Linked DNA regions of Homo sapiens. The protein of the gene in region 1 purifies or fractionates together with the protein of each later gene. This does not show direct contact. Each region holds a gene or a part of one and is shown on either strand. Other genes may lie near its edges.

Region 1 (3,500 bases):
GCCTGCCTTCTCAGCTCTATTTTAGAGGAAGGGCTTAATAGTTACTTTTCTTCAGCTTTCTTCCTACTATGCCAATTCATATTTTATTCACAGTCAATTACATGGCTGTTAATAAGAAACATGACTGTACTATAAACACATAAAGCACTTACTTTGCCTGCAAAAAAGGCCAAGAAGTCTTAAAATAACAACTTTGGTAATGTGCATAAAACCATATAAAGTCAATACTAAGGATGTTACCAAAAGAAAGCAAGATAAGCATAAATTATTTCCAATTGGTGCAAAAGCTTGAATATACATCAATGCAAATGCTTGAAGGAAATATTTCAGGGTCAACGGACTGAGGGAGGGTTAACGGGAACAAAATGACTGTGTCAGAGTCGTGATATGTCATTTTTCATAACTCCTTTTCCAATAAATATGCCACTAAATGTGCACACCTTGATAGAATAAATCTCATGTCTACTGCCATTTTCTGTTTGATATATGATACTCCTTTTGATTATACTGCATTATCTAACATGTAATTTCCTTTAATAGACATTACTCATAAATCTTCTTAGGAAAGATCTATGTTCTAATGCCCAACTATAATTTTGCTAATCTATGTCCCACCAAGTATATCTTTCTTGCATTTTACTCCTGGACCTGGTATTTGAAAATTCATGCAAAATACATACCTCACTTTTGATAAAAAAGCTCTCTAGCCAGAAAATAATAAGTTGAAACATTATAGAGTGACATTTCAAATGCTTAATTTTCATGCAATGATATAAAATAATCCTTACAATACCATTGGATAAGATTATGCTATTTTTGTTCTAGTAAATGTCACTGAGAAATGTACCTCTTAGGTCGAATAAGGAAATCAAAAACAGTTTCCAATACAAAACAGCCCACAGAATTTTCATCCTGCACTTAAACATTACAGTATATCCAAAACAAATTAAAGTGTACCTCTTCTATTTTCTTCTGCATAATCTTCCATTGACTTTCCCATTCCTTTCTTTCATTGTCAAACTGGTCCAGTAATTCCATCTTTTCCTTATGCCAGTTAGTCTCTGTGTTCTCCCACTGCTTATGTAGGTCCATGGCAACAGTGTAAGTGTCAGCAAAGAAGTGTTTCTGCTCTTCTCTGCCTCCTCTTAACTGTTTCTTGGAAGCTTGAAGTTGTTTTATTTGAAGCAGTCTCACTTGCCTTTAAAATAAAGCCTAATATAAACATAACAAGAGAGAGTTCCAAATCCATGTGCTTTCTGGAAATATATTTTATCATTTTGTCGAGCCATTGACATAAACAAACTATAGGAAAATTGGACTCAAAAGAAAAGAGATGACAACAGTCTACTTAAGAAGAAGAAACTAACACAGTCAATAAAGTAATAAGTATTGTCCAAAGTTTTTTTCCCTTTCTGAGACCAGACAGCAAAATTATAGTGGACAAGATGATTAAATGCGCATGTGAGATGTAATCATCCCTTTAACCACTTACTCTAAAAATAGATTTTTTCATGAATAAGAGTGTAAGTATACAATTCAAATGTATGCTCACATCTACACACTGTGACAGATTCTGCTGCAATAAAATTATTCTTTCTGTTCTGATGCAACCTGATTATATATTCTTATGACTTAAATTCCTGAAACAGAGCTGGTTTGCAGTCTTAATTCTATATTCAGAGATCAAGCCTGTGCCAAATGTCATTACTGTGTTACTTATGAAGACCCCAAAGTTGGTAGTCAACTTAGGACTGATGTATCATCCAGAAACTAATCTAAATTATAAAAAATATATTCATTATGTCACTTCATCAAGGAAAATCTAGAAGCATCAAAACTATCCTGTGAAATATACGTTAAAATTTATCCATGCTCTCTTTTCCTTTGAATAGGCTATATACCATAAACTGCTTAGGATATTGAATACAGGGAACTGAAGAAAACATTTTGCTCAGTTTTCAGGGAATCCTCTATTACATTAAGTAGTGACTGAAATAATTAACTTTCTAGCCTTCAGGGACGTGTACTTAAGGTTTGAAGTCAGAATTTAAAATACCAGCTATGTAACTGGTATAAGTCTAAAATTTCTGGGATTTAGTTTTTTGCATTAAAATGGGGATAGTCATAGAACTGTTAAAAAGATTAAATGGCATACTGAATGCAAAGTAGTTTGAGAAATTTAAGAAAGTTTTCTATTTTTTGCTTTACAAAATTTCATTGTGACTTCAATTAAAAATAATTTTGTATTAAATAAGTCATGTGCCTTTTTAGGGGGTAGAAAAGCATGTTTAAAATGTTTGAATCTCTGTTTAAGATAATTATGCCTATAAGATGTCTAACTCTTCAGTCACTAAGCCATTATCAAAATGCTATAACTTACTGGTGGCAGCTAATGCTAATTACGGACAAAGATCCCAACAGTCAATAGCTTTGTGGGTGCTGGCACTGCCGAATTAAGGCCACATACCCAAGCAGCAAGTGCCAATTTTGTATTCACAGAAGATAACTGCATATTTCAAATCCTAAATATCAGCTAAATATCGAACACTAATTTTATTTTTGTCAGACTGTTGTGAACATACATATCTGACTAGTAAACAGTTTTGAATCTGTATTTTTTGAGTCACGATCAATGAATTAGAATAGAATAAGAAATGAAAAATGTTAGCTATATATGCAGGGTTCTACCTTCAAAACACCCTAATAATTTTGGGATCTATATTGTTACTTTACTCTCAAACTATTTACTAAAGATATTTTGATAATTTTTTCCTATGTCTTTGGCACTAGCACTATTATGATTAATTCAGTCACGAAAAATACATAATTTCATATCTGGCTATTAAAGGTGCTATCATATCTCATTTTATCCATTTGGCCATGCTCAATTTCTGACCTCATTTCTCCACCTCCTCTGTCACCCCTTTCTTTGCTATCTTTCCCACATATAAACCAGTAACCACAAGTACTTGCCATAATAAATGTCAGTGAAGAACAAATAAAATAAAGATGGTAAAGAACATACAGAGTTTTGGTTTTTGTTTGTTTTGGCTAATCTAATTTCCATTGATCTTGATCTTGAATACCTAGTAATCTTTTAGGTTCGTCTAACAATTCTTCATAGGAAATGCAGACAGTGCCTGTCTTGAAACTAGCAGACTGCTTTAAAACTATACGTAATTAACTGTGTGGTGAAACTACCTTGCTGACTAGAAAGTATTTGCCACTGGAACTTCTTAGGAAGAATGGTGTGGTTTGAGATAATAAGAGATAAATGCAGATTTAACCAAAGAAACTAAAAAAGGATGCAGACTAATTTCAAGCTACCTGGAAAAGAGGAGCTATGATAAATCCATGTTTTATCCCAACTGTCTTTAAACATTGGAAATGTTCAGAAATCACCATAAAGTCTTTTCTACAATTATGTAGCAAATGGCTCCAATTTTTCCTTCTATTCCTAACTCTTCTTGAATCGCTTCCATGCTACTGTTGAAAGATGC
Region 2 (3,500 bases), on another chromosome or scaffold:
AAATTAAAAAGTTAGCCAGGCACAGTGATGCACACCAGTAGTCCCAGCTACTTGGGAGGCTGAGCCCAGGAGTTCAGCGTTGCAGTAAGCTATGATTGAACCACTGTACTTCCAGCCTGGGTGACAGAGTGAGACCCTGACTCTTAAAAAAGAGGCGGCACAGCTTCTGCTCTCTCTGCTCTCCACCACGTAAGGACAGGAGAAGGCAGCCATCTGCAAACCAGGAAGTGGGCTCTCACCAGATACTAGGTCTGCTGGCAACTGGGTCTTGGACTTTCCAGCCTCCTGAACATGAGAAATAAATGTCTGTTGTTTAAGCCCCACACTCGACAGTAATTTATTACAGCAGCCTAAGCCAGGAGACAGGTAAGATCCACCCTAGATCACTGCGTGTTTGACTGAAAGACATGTAATGCGTACCTAGGTAATTGGCCATGGAGATGAAGCACAGCCCTGTGATGTAGGCATCGTAGCCTGCCTCGTGGAGTTGTTCAGAGGCTGTGTCATAACTTGGAAAACCTTCGGCACTTTCTAAGAAAAAAAAGGAAAAAGTTTTCCTCAAAACAAAGACTAGTAAGCACATTGCCCTACCAATCAAAATTGCATTAGCATATGCTAGAGAAATACCCTAAATAGGCAGAAAAAAGCTATCTATTCCTTAATTCTCTCTATATAAGACCTTAAAATACAAGATAACAGAGTCACTGAAAAGGAGGGCTTTGGTCTAGGATACAGAAATGCCTCAGTTAGATTACAAAGGACTCAGCCGTGGGCTTTCTCGTCCCACACTGGTGGGTGCTATTTATGATCATCCATAACTCACTCTAGGACAATGATTCCTCTTCTGCTTGCTTTCTAAGGCCATGAAAAGGATATTCTTCCCTTATACAAGATGGTCACATCAGGCCACAATAGATGATCCAGAGTAAAGATTAAGAGCATGGGCTCTGGAGTCACACTGAGTTCGAATCTCTGCTCCACCACTTATTTGCGGTATGACCTTGGGCAAGTCACTTCATCCCTAAGGTTCCAGTTTTGTAAAACAGAGATGATAATCAAACCTTCTTCAAAAGGTTATTGTTAGGATCAGATAAGATAATATAAGTTAAACTCTTACCTAGTGCTTGGTACATAGTAAGTGCTCAAAAACTGTTATCTATCAATACCTGAGGCAACCCTCCCCCAAAAAAAGAGAAGACTGCAATTCACTATCAACAGCTCCAACTCACTACTGTCCTCTACTATGTTCCCAAGCTTAGAGATCGAAAGGTGACAGCACAACCAACTCCAAAAATAAATCGAACTTGCTATAATGCTGGCCTTGGATCATGGAACCACTTTACAGCAAAGACCGCTTTATATACAATATGGTTCTTTTGTGACATTGATAAATACAGATGTGACCAGATAAACTATAAGAGGAATGACCTGCTTTAGACTGAATTCTCTACCAGATACCACTATTTTATATGGAAATAATAACATAAAACTATAACTCATAAATAATTATATCCTAGAACCATTCTGGAAATGAATGTCAGGAAGGTTACTATAACACAGAATCAAAAGCATAAATGGAAATTAACAATGAAAAGGCTGTAACTGTTTTTATGTCAATACAATGCTCTTTAAGCAAGAATTCTTTAACTCCATATTAAATATTAGACTTGATGCCTTTAAAAAAAAGCCTTTTAACATGGTAGCCACCTAAGTAATATCTTCCACTCCATCATCAACTGAGACACATTCTTTCCAAAATCAATTATTTCCATTATATTGTTATAGAAAAGGTCCACGTTTTCTCCCCCAATGGCCCCACCACCACTTTTCTTAATTCCTTTCTTGGACTATTACCCAGAAAGGGGCAAATAACTGTAATCTTGGCTGCTTTAATACTTTGCATTATCAATTTCTAAACCATTAGTCCTATTATCCATGTCTTTAGAAGTTTTCAGGCTACAACTAATGGCTCGCTAATCACCGTATCAGCAGCACAATCAGGTTAACAGGGACCAAGGAAGTAGCACCTGGTAGGCTCTCCACATACCTTGGTGGTGGCCCGAGGTGGCAAAACACCTCCATCTCATCTCCCTACTTCTGGTTTTCCTCAGTGCTGCTGTTTCTACTCTCTAAACCAGCTGAAAAGGAGGCAGGGTGGGGACTTGCCTTAATCTCACCTGTAAATCCAGTTCTCGGGCTTTTCTGAGATGGAAAATATATTTTTTACTCTACCCCTGGTGATTAATCACTAGCTCTTTGTCTCTGCTTCAATAATGTATGAAAGAATAAAAGGGCACATCAAGTTTTAGGAGAATTCCATATTATTAGAAAATAGAAGCCTTGAAGCTTTAATTGCTAAAATTCTCAATGAATGGCTACCCAACTCCATTAACATAAAATATATGTAGAATTAAAAGACCATCTTTATTCAAAAAACAATAATTCAACACACGGTACGTGCAAGTGAATTCAGCCAAAATCTATAAATGAACAATACGGTCTCCAGAGCCATTCTGCTTTTCTTCTACAATATACATCAATAATTATTACAAAGAGTTTGGAGGGTTTCCGGTTTAATATTCTTACCAACTTTAGGAGGGTTGAAAGGTGTCTCTTTTAACCGCTTTTCCAATTCCGCAAGGGATGTGTTGTTAATGATATCCTGCAAACCACGAAGCAAAGAATTATGAGATTTCATCATCTCAGAACAATATATTAAAGAGATTCACTGACCCCCCCAAAAAAAAGACAGCATCTAGTACTGTCTCCTTGTGTTCTTTAAAGAAACACAGAAGTCTTCGTTTTTTTCAATGTGAAAGAGAAGCAGCTAGTTTAATTTTTATAATATACAAAGTATAACCAAATGAATAAAGATCTTTACAGATGCATTAAATACCTCCAAACCTTTTGCCAGAAGGCTATATTGTTCTGGCATTCATTTCACTCAGTAATATGCAGTCGCTTTATAAAGTAGCAAATGAATAATACCTTAAAAGGTTGTGTGCTGGCCATCAATTTAGTATCCAAGAGTCTAAAAAGAATTTTTAACAAGGTAAACAAAATGTATATCAATGTTTAAAATGTCTTTTACTCAAATATGTAAGCTACTTAAAATACTTCATACATAAAAAACATAATTAAAACATAAAATGTTTAATACAGAAAATACTTAAACACAGACAAAGTAATTAAACACATTGGCCATTTTGAACCCAGCACCAGCATCCCTGCTACGTTGGAGTAGGTACTCAGTCCCATCATCAGCGACTTCATTGAGCAACTGCAGGAGAGTCCACACTTGGAGTACAAGTTCTAGATTCACCTGGATCCTCAGAGAGCCTGGGCTCCATCAATCTCAAGGGTGAGTCAAATACTCTCACATGGTTTTACGTGGTTCAAATACTGCTGCCGGTCTACCATTCCCAAACTGCTACCATCTACTCCTACTCCTCAGGTTTGTAAACTATAAATTCTTCTGCAGGGCCAAAATCTACAATCAG
Region 3 (4,269 bases), on another chromosome or scaffold:
ATTTCTTTTGAATTAGAAACGCTGTACAGATTACAATTAGGCAAATTGCCAGTGAATAATCAAGGATATTTCAAATAAAGGCATATACTTACTTTGCTTAAGAGCAGCGAACAAAGCAAAGGCCTCTGATAAATTTAATGCCAGCAATTTTCAAAGCTTAGTCTTGGCCGGGTGCGGTGATTCACACCTGTAATCCCAGCACTTTGGGAGGCCAAGGCGAGCAGATCACTTCAGGTCAGGAGCTCAAGACCAGCCTGGCCAACATGGTGAAACCCCATCTCTACTAAAAATACAAAAATTAGCTGGGGGTGGTGGCAGGCTCCTGTAATCCCAACTACTCGGGAGGCTGAGGCAGGAGAATCGCTTGAACCCAGGAGGTGGAGGTTGCAGTGAACTGAGATCGCACCACTGTACTCCAGACTGGGGGACAAGAGTGAGACTTCGTCTCAAAAAAAAAAAAAGGGTTAGTCTTATGGCTAGAAGGAATGTAAGAAGTAGAGCAATCTTAGGCACTCCAACACACTGTCTTCATGAGAATTCTGGCAACTTAGATGAAGGAGGCTGTAGCGATTTAAAGTTTTACTAGATTCAGTGTTTAAAACTGTTGGGGGCCAGGCACGGTGGCTCACGCCTGTAATCCCAGCACTTTGGGAGGCCGAGGTGGGCAGATCACGAGGTCAAGAGATCAAGACCAGCCTGGCCAACATGGTGAAACCCCGTCTCTACTAAAAATACAAAAATTAGCTGGGTGTGGTGGCGGGCACCTGTAATCCCAGTTACTTGGGAGGCTGAGGCAGGAGAATCGCTTGAACCCAGGAGGCAGAGGTTGCAGTGAGCCGAGATCGTGCCACTGCACTCCAGCCTGGGCGACAGAGGGAGACTCCGTGTCAAAAAAAAAAAAAAAGAAAAAAAAAACTGTTGGTTGGTAAAACCCTAAAAAAGATGATCTTTAAGGGCTCTTTACAGATTATGATACAAAGGCCCAGAGAAGTCACAAAGTAGTAGCGGGAAAAGCGTGACTTTCAAAATCAATCACACTTGACTAAACTCTTCCCAGACCTCTTCTTCAATGTGTGTTCCTAAGAACACGACTTAACTTTTTTCTGTTTCTTCACCTATACAAATGAAGAGAATACTTACCTTTTCGGGATGTTATGAAAGTTAAATCAATTCATATTTATGAAGACATTTGTCACATAATAGATACTCAATACATGTTGACTGCCTTTCTTCCAACGGATGAATAACTTGAAAGTCACACAGCTAGTGAGGACTAGAACCAAGAATTGGGATCCCCTTCACCACTCAAACAGAATTCAACTATTTCTTAAATGGCCTCTGTTCATCTTCAATCATATCATAAAATAGAGCTTTTTAACACCTGAGTTGGGAGGGGTAGTTATTAAAGTAAATGTGGAACACCACAGGGCTGCAAAAGAGTCAGGAAGTTTAATCAAGGAAATGTTGTATTGGCTACCTTTCTAAAAATGACATCTGCTTAGTTTGTACCTGAAGGCTTGACCTTCCGGAAACAATGCAACAAATGAAGTTGGTTATTTTTAATGGATATTTCACAACTAGTATTTCAAGATTGTTTGCAGCAAATAGGTATCAAGTGTCTAACATGTGCAGGGCCCTGTGGATGACAGAAGTATGAATCTGACTTTGGCCCTGTCTTCTCTTGTAGAGAAAAGAGGCAGACCTTGAGGAGTGATAAAAACCAACCAACCAATAATTGCATGGTAGGTGTGATGGAACTTAAAAAGTTCAAGGCTAGCCTGACATGGGGGGTCACTTAACGCTACTCTACTTGGGGATGAAATGCCCACTGCATCAGGAGTTGGTAAACACAGCAGAGCATAGTAGAAACTATTCAAATTGTGTTAACTGAATTCTAGTATTGTTTCTGAAAGGAGCTAGCTTTGTGAACTTGTCAAGTTACTTGACATCTTTAGGTTATGTTTCTCATCTGTAAAATAAGTGAGTTCAAAGGATGATCTCTATTTAAGCCTCCTTCCAGTTCTACTATTCCAAATTCCATGATAATGATGATGACCACAAGAAATACAGTAACTTATATTTACCACACATTATATGTCAAGCACTATGCTAAAGTGCATTACTGTACTAACTTCACTTAATCTTCACAACTTTACGAAATGGACATTATTGTTATCATTATTTTACAGATGAGGAAAAGGAGGCTAAACAGTATCAGAATACTGGAGTCGTGATTTGAATGGAGGGAGTCTGAAGCAGCAACCCCTGCTTCTGACCTCAGTCTGAATTGAAAGCAGTTCATGGGTCACCCTTAACCATCATACAAAGTTGCCTCTCTTCACAAAAACTGTCTTATCCATTCTCAAGAAATAAGGAAAAGAGAAAGCTTGTGGAAAGGATCCTTCCTGGCTGGCAGACAGATCTGAGTTAATGTCACAGCTGTCTGTTTCACGTGTTAAAGAATCTCTTGCACCATTTTCCCCGAGATGCTTGCGCGCTCCCAAGGCGGTGCACACCCCTGCTGGGCAAACACCGCGATCGCCAGAAGCGACCAGGGCTGAGGCGCACGGAAGGGCTCCGGGAGAGGCCCCGTAGGAGCGCGGGCACAGAGTGGGTACCTGGGCTGCTGCCTGCTCCAGTCGGCTGGTTCTCCCACCACTCGTCTCCGAGATCGTCTGCCATTTCAGCTCAGGTCTCGACGTGGGCAGAACATCACGGGTAGGCGACCAGCTGCGGAGAATCACGTTGTCTCAAAGCCAGGCGGCCGGCGTAGCTACACGCGGAGCTCCCGCTAGACACTGTCGCCTCCGCCCCGCGGCGATGACGTCACACCTCTGCCCCGCCTCTCCGGCAGCCGCTCCCAGACTCGTCGCAGTTTCCACACAGGCGCCGACAGGCAGAAGCAGTTTGGAAACGCAACATAAATCCCCCCAAAGCTTAAAGACAAAAAGGAACATAAGACGAAAGGGATTGTCATCGTTTTTGATAATGCATTTTAAAAAATTTTGTTTACGTGTTACGTTTCCCGATAAGATTGTGTCGAAAGTGTGAGACACCATGTGAAGACGATTTTTCTCCGCTCAGTTTCAAAGAACTTGCGCAGCGGGAGAAGACCCAAACATGTGCGTGTGTTTTCGCTTGTGCGTCAGTGTTTCAGAGTTTATGTGTTTGTACAGTTTGCTCTTAGAAAACATGCGCAAGGATCCATGACCATGAATGTCGGGCCTTTGTGGTAAATGTAGTTCTGCTATTTATGCAATATGAGTAAAGAAAATGTAATTGGCCTGGAAAGGCTCGCCCACAGAAAGACGCAAGTGGCTCGAAGACCCGCAAGTTGTTTTCCTCATACTCCCTCGGTTGTGTGTCCCACCCCCTATTTGGGAAACGAAGTAATAAGGGAGTCCATTGCTTCGTAACTATAGGTAAGAGACCCGCAGTGCCTCTTGTCTCAGTCCCAACGTGATTTGGCAGGGAGGGACTAGGAAAACCCGCTGGGCGCCAAGTGCTGGGGCTAGCTGTGAAGTAATTGTGGACGGTATTTTTCAGGACATCAAACACAGACGTAAAAATTATACAAAATGTAGTAAAAGCACGCAACGTGCCTGGTACTATGCATGGAATAGTAAGATGAGTCCATTCAGATGTTAGCCTACAGTAGTGGAAATTCAATTTGTAGGAATAAAGGGCTAGACTTCTAATAGGATACATCCTCGGAAATGACAAGACAGGGAAACTTAATCTGATGAGGCTAGGATTAGCCATATGTGGAAAATTACCCCGTGTGCACCCAACTCATAGATGTTTTATAAATGCATTACTGCCTAGACTTTGTCCGCACACTCTAAATGCCCCAAAAGGGAAGATATTATGTATAAATATGGCAAATGTAAAATAATCTATAAAGATCAAAAGTAATATGGCTTTTGTGAAGAAATGTAGATGACGAGATTTTCGTGATTAATAGATTTTTGAAAAAGATAAGAAATGCCAGTGTGGAAGAGGAGTTGCTATGGCTAATAAACATGAAAAGAATTCAGTCTGATTATTAATCTGGGAAATACAAAAAAAACACCACAGCGAGACCGTTTTTCAGGCAATAAATCACAAAATTAAGAAGTATGGGCCGGGCGCGGTGGCTCAAGCCTGTAATCCCAACGCTTTGGGAGGCCGAGGTGGGTGAATCACCTGAGGTCAAGAATTCCAGACCAGCCTGGCCAAAATGGCGAAACCCATCTCTACTAAAAATACAAAAATTAGCCGGGCATGGTG
Region 4 (2,975 bases), on another chromosome or scaffold:
TGGCCTTTCCCTCCTCTAAGTGGCTCTGCAGAAGGTGCTCGTGGTACTACCAGAGACTGACCTTCCCAGCTGGTGGTCTAGCTCCTCCCTTGTAGCCCTTTTGTGCTGAAGGGAGCTGACTTGAGTTCCTGGCAGAGCTGGCCCCTTCCCCCAGATCTTGATGAAGAAAAACAAGGGGAGGGAGTGTGCCACGTCTGGGCAGCAGTGGCCTTTTCTGACTTCTCTGCTGAGCCCCAAGCAAAGGAAAGGGAGCCAGAGGCCCCACTCTCCCAGCATTGACTCACAGAGCTGTGAGACGAAGCCCTTGTGCAGAAACAGGGATGGCAGGAGTTCAGAACAAAAAATGCAGTGGGGCAGGGACAAAGGGCCAGGGCCAGTGTGTTGGAGGGGAGCAGGTGAGCAGGGCCCCATCCTGGGGCAGGAACACCTTACTGCTGAGAGCTTGCAAGAGACCAAGGCCCAGCTGGGAAAAGGGAAGAGATGAACGGCAGAGGCTCAAGTTGAGAAATCCAGATTTACTTGTGGCCTTTCTCCAGGGTGCCAGAGAAGACCAGCAGGCATGGGCGGATGGGGCAGCTGTGCTGTGGGTGAGTGAGTGGGTGTAATAATACCGGGTAACATTTGCGACGTACCAGGCGTTGGGCCAAGGAGCTTGCACACGCTGCCTTGGTCCTCACAGCAGCTGATGAGGCAGGTATCACTATCTCCATGTTACAGGTAAGAAAGCCAGCTGAAAGGCAGCAGGAACTGGCACAGGGTCACCCGGCTGGGAAGTAGAGCAGGGATGTGCCCCAGGCAGTCTGATGTAGAAGCTGCCTCTAGTCTATGAATCTTTGCCTCTGATGGATCAGAAGAGGGAGTCAGGGGAGTCCTTGGAGCTCCAAACACTGCTTTGAAAGCCACCCCTCAAAGAGCTGGAGAGTTGGAGAGAGAGGCTTTGGCAAGAGCTCAATAGAAACACTGTTTATTCAAATGACAGGCAGGAAGCGGTGGCAGCAGCAGGGGGGAAAGGGCAGCCAGGCAGGGGCTGGGCAGTGCTTCCCTGTGTCCCCTGCAATCCTGCTTGGACAGCCACCCGGCTGTTGGCATCAGGGTCAGAAATACTTTCCCTCCTCTCCCTCCTGCCCCAAACTGAATAAATAGCATCCCTCTCCCCACGAGAGCTAGGGGAGACTCATGTGCTGAGTTTGGTGCCCCAGTCACAGCCCAGAGTCCGGTGAGGGCAGAAGTTCAAAATGGCTTGTAGGGAGTAGAATACAAAACTGTTCTACTCATTCTCACCTTCCTCTTCCTCCTCCCTGCCACACTCCCCTCCCAGCCTGGTCCCAGGACAGGTGGTCGGTGAGGGTCTGGAGCGGGAGAATTGTTGCCTAGCATACACTGAGCTCAAGTTCACAAGGCCATCCAGCCTGTCACCCATCCGGGTTGACCACCAAAGAGAACGTCTCACTTCACGCCACTTTATGGACATAAAAGGAGGGGCAGGGAGGGAGGCAGTGGGCAGCCAGGCCTTTCCCAGCCTCAGAGGTAACCAGAGTCCGAGGAGCAGGCCCCCTACCGATCCATCTCGTCCAGGAGTGGGGTGGCATCGCCAGCAATGGACATGGGGGTGCTTTCGATCATGGGGCTGGGGGAGGGCCGAGGTGTCAGCCGCTGCTTCTGTTTCCGCCGTTCTGCCTCCTTTTCCTGCAGCCACTGCTCCGCCATTTTTCCCCAGTCGATGGCTGCATGGCTGTTGGACCTGGGAGGGGAAGAAAAGTTGAGATTGGGACTTTGCTAGAAGGAAGTCTTCCCACCAATCACTGTACCCTTGCAGAAAGGAACCTCATACCTATGGGCAGCAGCCCCTCTACTGGGATAAGGCAGATACAGCAGCAGCTGGCTGCCATACTGCCCTCTTCCGTCTTCACCCAGAAACTAGTGTTCCTGGCATATCATGTGGTCAGGGCCCTCAGAGGATCCAGAGCACCTGCCTCTGCTAAGCCTTTCGGCCTCTTGACAACACCTGCCCCTACCACTGACCTGCACTGTGCCACCATCCAGATACTTACTTTGGCTGCTGCTGCCGTTGCCGGGAGCTGGAAGAGGGCTGGGGCTGGGCCTGGGCCGACTGTGGGGTGGTGCTGGCCTGGAGCTGGTGGTACTGAGGGGTGGTGATGGGCTGGCTTGGGGTCGTGTAGGAGTAGCTAGGGGTCATTAGTGGTGTGGCCACTGGCTGCTGGGCTGGCGTTGGGAATACCTGGAGAGGCATGAACAGTTAAATAGGGATGGGTGTGGGGCTTGTTTGGCCTTGCTGTGAATTCTGGGTAAGCGCAAGGGTGGGCTCAGCAAAGCTTTCCAGATGATCTTCCACTGAGTATGTGCTTCTGACCAGCAGTGGGAAGCCTGCAGGTCAGCACCGAGCACACAGTGGTGCCCACTGGTCCTGACCATGTCAACTTTCTGGTGGCTTGCGGGTTCCAAAGATCCCAAAGGCCCGTGGAAAGGTTATGCCCTCTCTTACCCTCTTCCCCTTCAAATGGGCCTAAGGACAAGAAATATCTGTTGGAGACAGTTACCAAGGCCGTGGCAGCCCCATCTGTGCATGTGAAGCCCCTTGTGGGCAATGCGAGAGGGCAGTCTATGGGCCCCACCCTGCACAGGGAGCTTCCTCCCCAAGCCACATACGTGGTAAGCACTGCTGCCGCCTCCACTGCCGCCATAGCCGTACTGGCTGGAGGCCCACTGGGCTGGGGTGGCATTAGGGTTCTGTCCTTGGCCTGTCACCGCAGCAATGGCACTGAACATCTGTGAAGTCATGTTCTGAGGCAGGGCATTCACAGCCCGTGTCAGATCTGTAAGCACACAGAGGTGGGGAGGGGCATGTTAGAGGTGAAAGTCCCTTTAGCTCCATCCTTCCCACCTCCAGTCCCAGGCTCAAGCTCCTCACCTGCAAGGTTGATGTTGGCTGGGGTAGCATTGATAGAGGCAGGTGT

What was found. Proteins that work in one complex are often made in the same cells at the same time.
Region 2: the proteins of KIAA0408 (region 1) and PARN purify together in Homo sapiens (affinity purification with mass spectrometry; one large-scale study listed by BioGRID and IntAct). This does not show direct contact.
Region 3: the proteins of KIAA0408 (region 1) and CMSS1 purify together in Homo sapiens (affinity purification with mass spectrometry; one large-scale study listed by BioGRID and IntAct). This does not show direct contact.
Region 4: the proteins of KIAA0408 (region 1) and SUPT6H purify together in Homo sapiens (affinity purification with mass spectrometry; one large-scale study listed by BioGRID and IntAct). This does not show direct contact.

The regions. Positions count from the first base shown.
Region 1 is NC_000006.12:127,452,890-127,456,389, forward strand, and holds part of KIAA0408 (uncharacterized protein KIAA0408), read right to left. Parts: intron 1,213-3,500; 5' UTR 1,093-1,212; coding exon 958-1,092; intron 1-957.
Region 2 is NC_000016.10:14,581,761-14,585,260, forward strand, and holds part of PARN (poly(A)-specific ribonuclease PARN), read right to left. Parts: intron 3,032-3,500; coding exon 2,989-3,031; intron 2,663-2,988; coding exon 2,587-2,662; intron 532-2,586; coding exon 421-531; intron 1-420. UniProt on the Homo sapiens protein: 3'-exoribonuclease that has a preference for poly(A) tails of mRNAs, thereby efficiently degrading poly(A) tails.
Region 3 is NC_000003.12:99,816,393-99,820,661, reverse strand, and holds the start of CMSS1 (protein CMSS1), read right to left. Parts: upstream 2,801-4,269; 5' UTR 2,683-2,800; coding exon 2,619-2,682; exon of another isoform or gene 2,190-2,618; intron 1,743-2,189; exon of another isoform or gene 1,688-1,742; intron 1-1,687.
Region 4 is NC_000017.11:28,700,205-28,703,179, reverse strand, and holds the end of SUPT6H (transcription elongation factor SPT6), read right to left. Parts: coding exon 2,930-2,975; intron 2,835-2,929; coding exon 2,668-2,834; intron 2,240-2,667; coding exon 2,052-2,239; intron 1,742-2,051; coding exon 1,555-1,741; 3' UTR 501-1,554; downstream 1-500.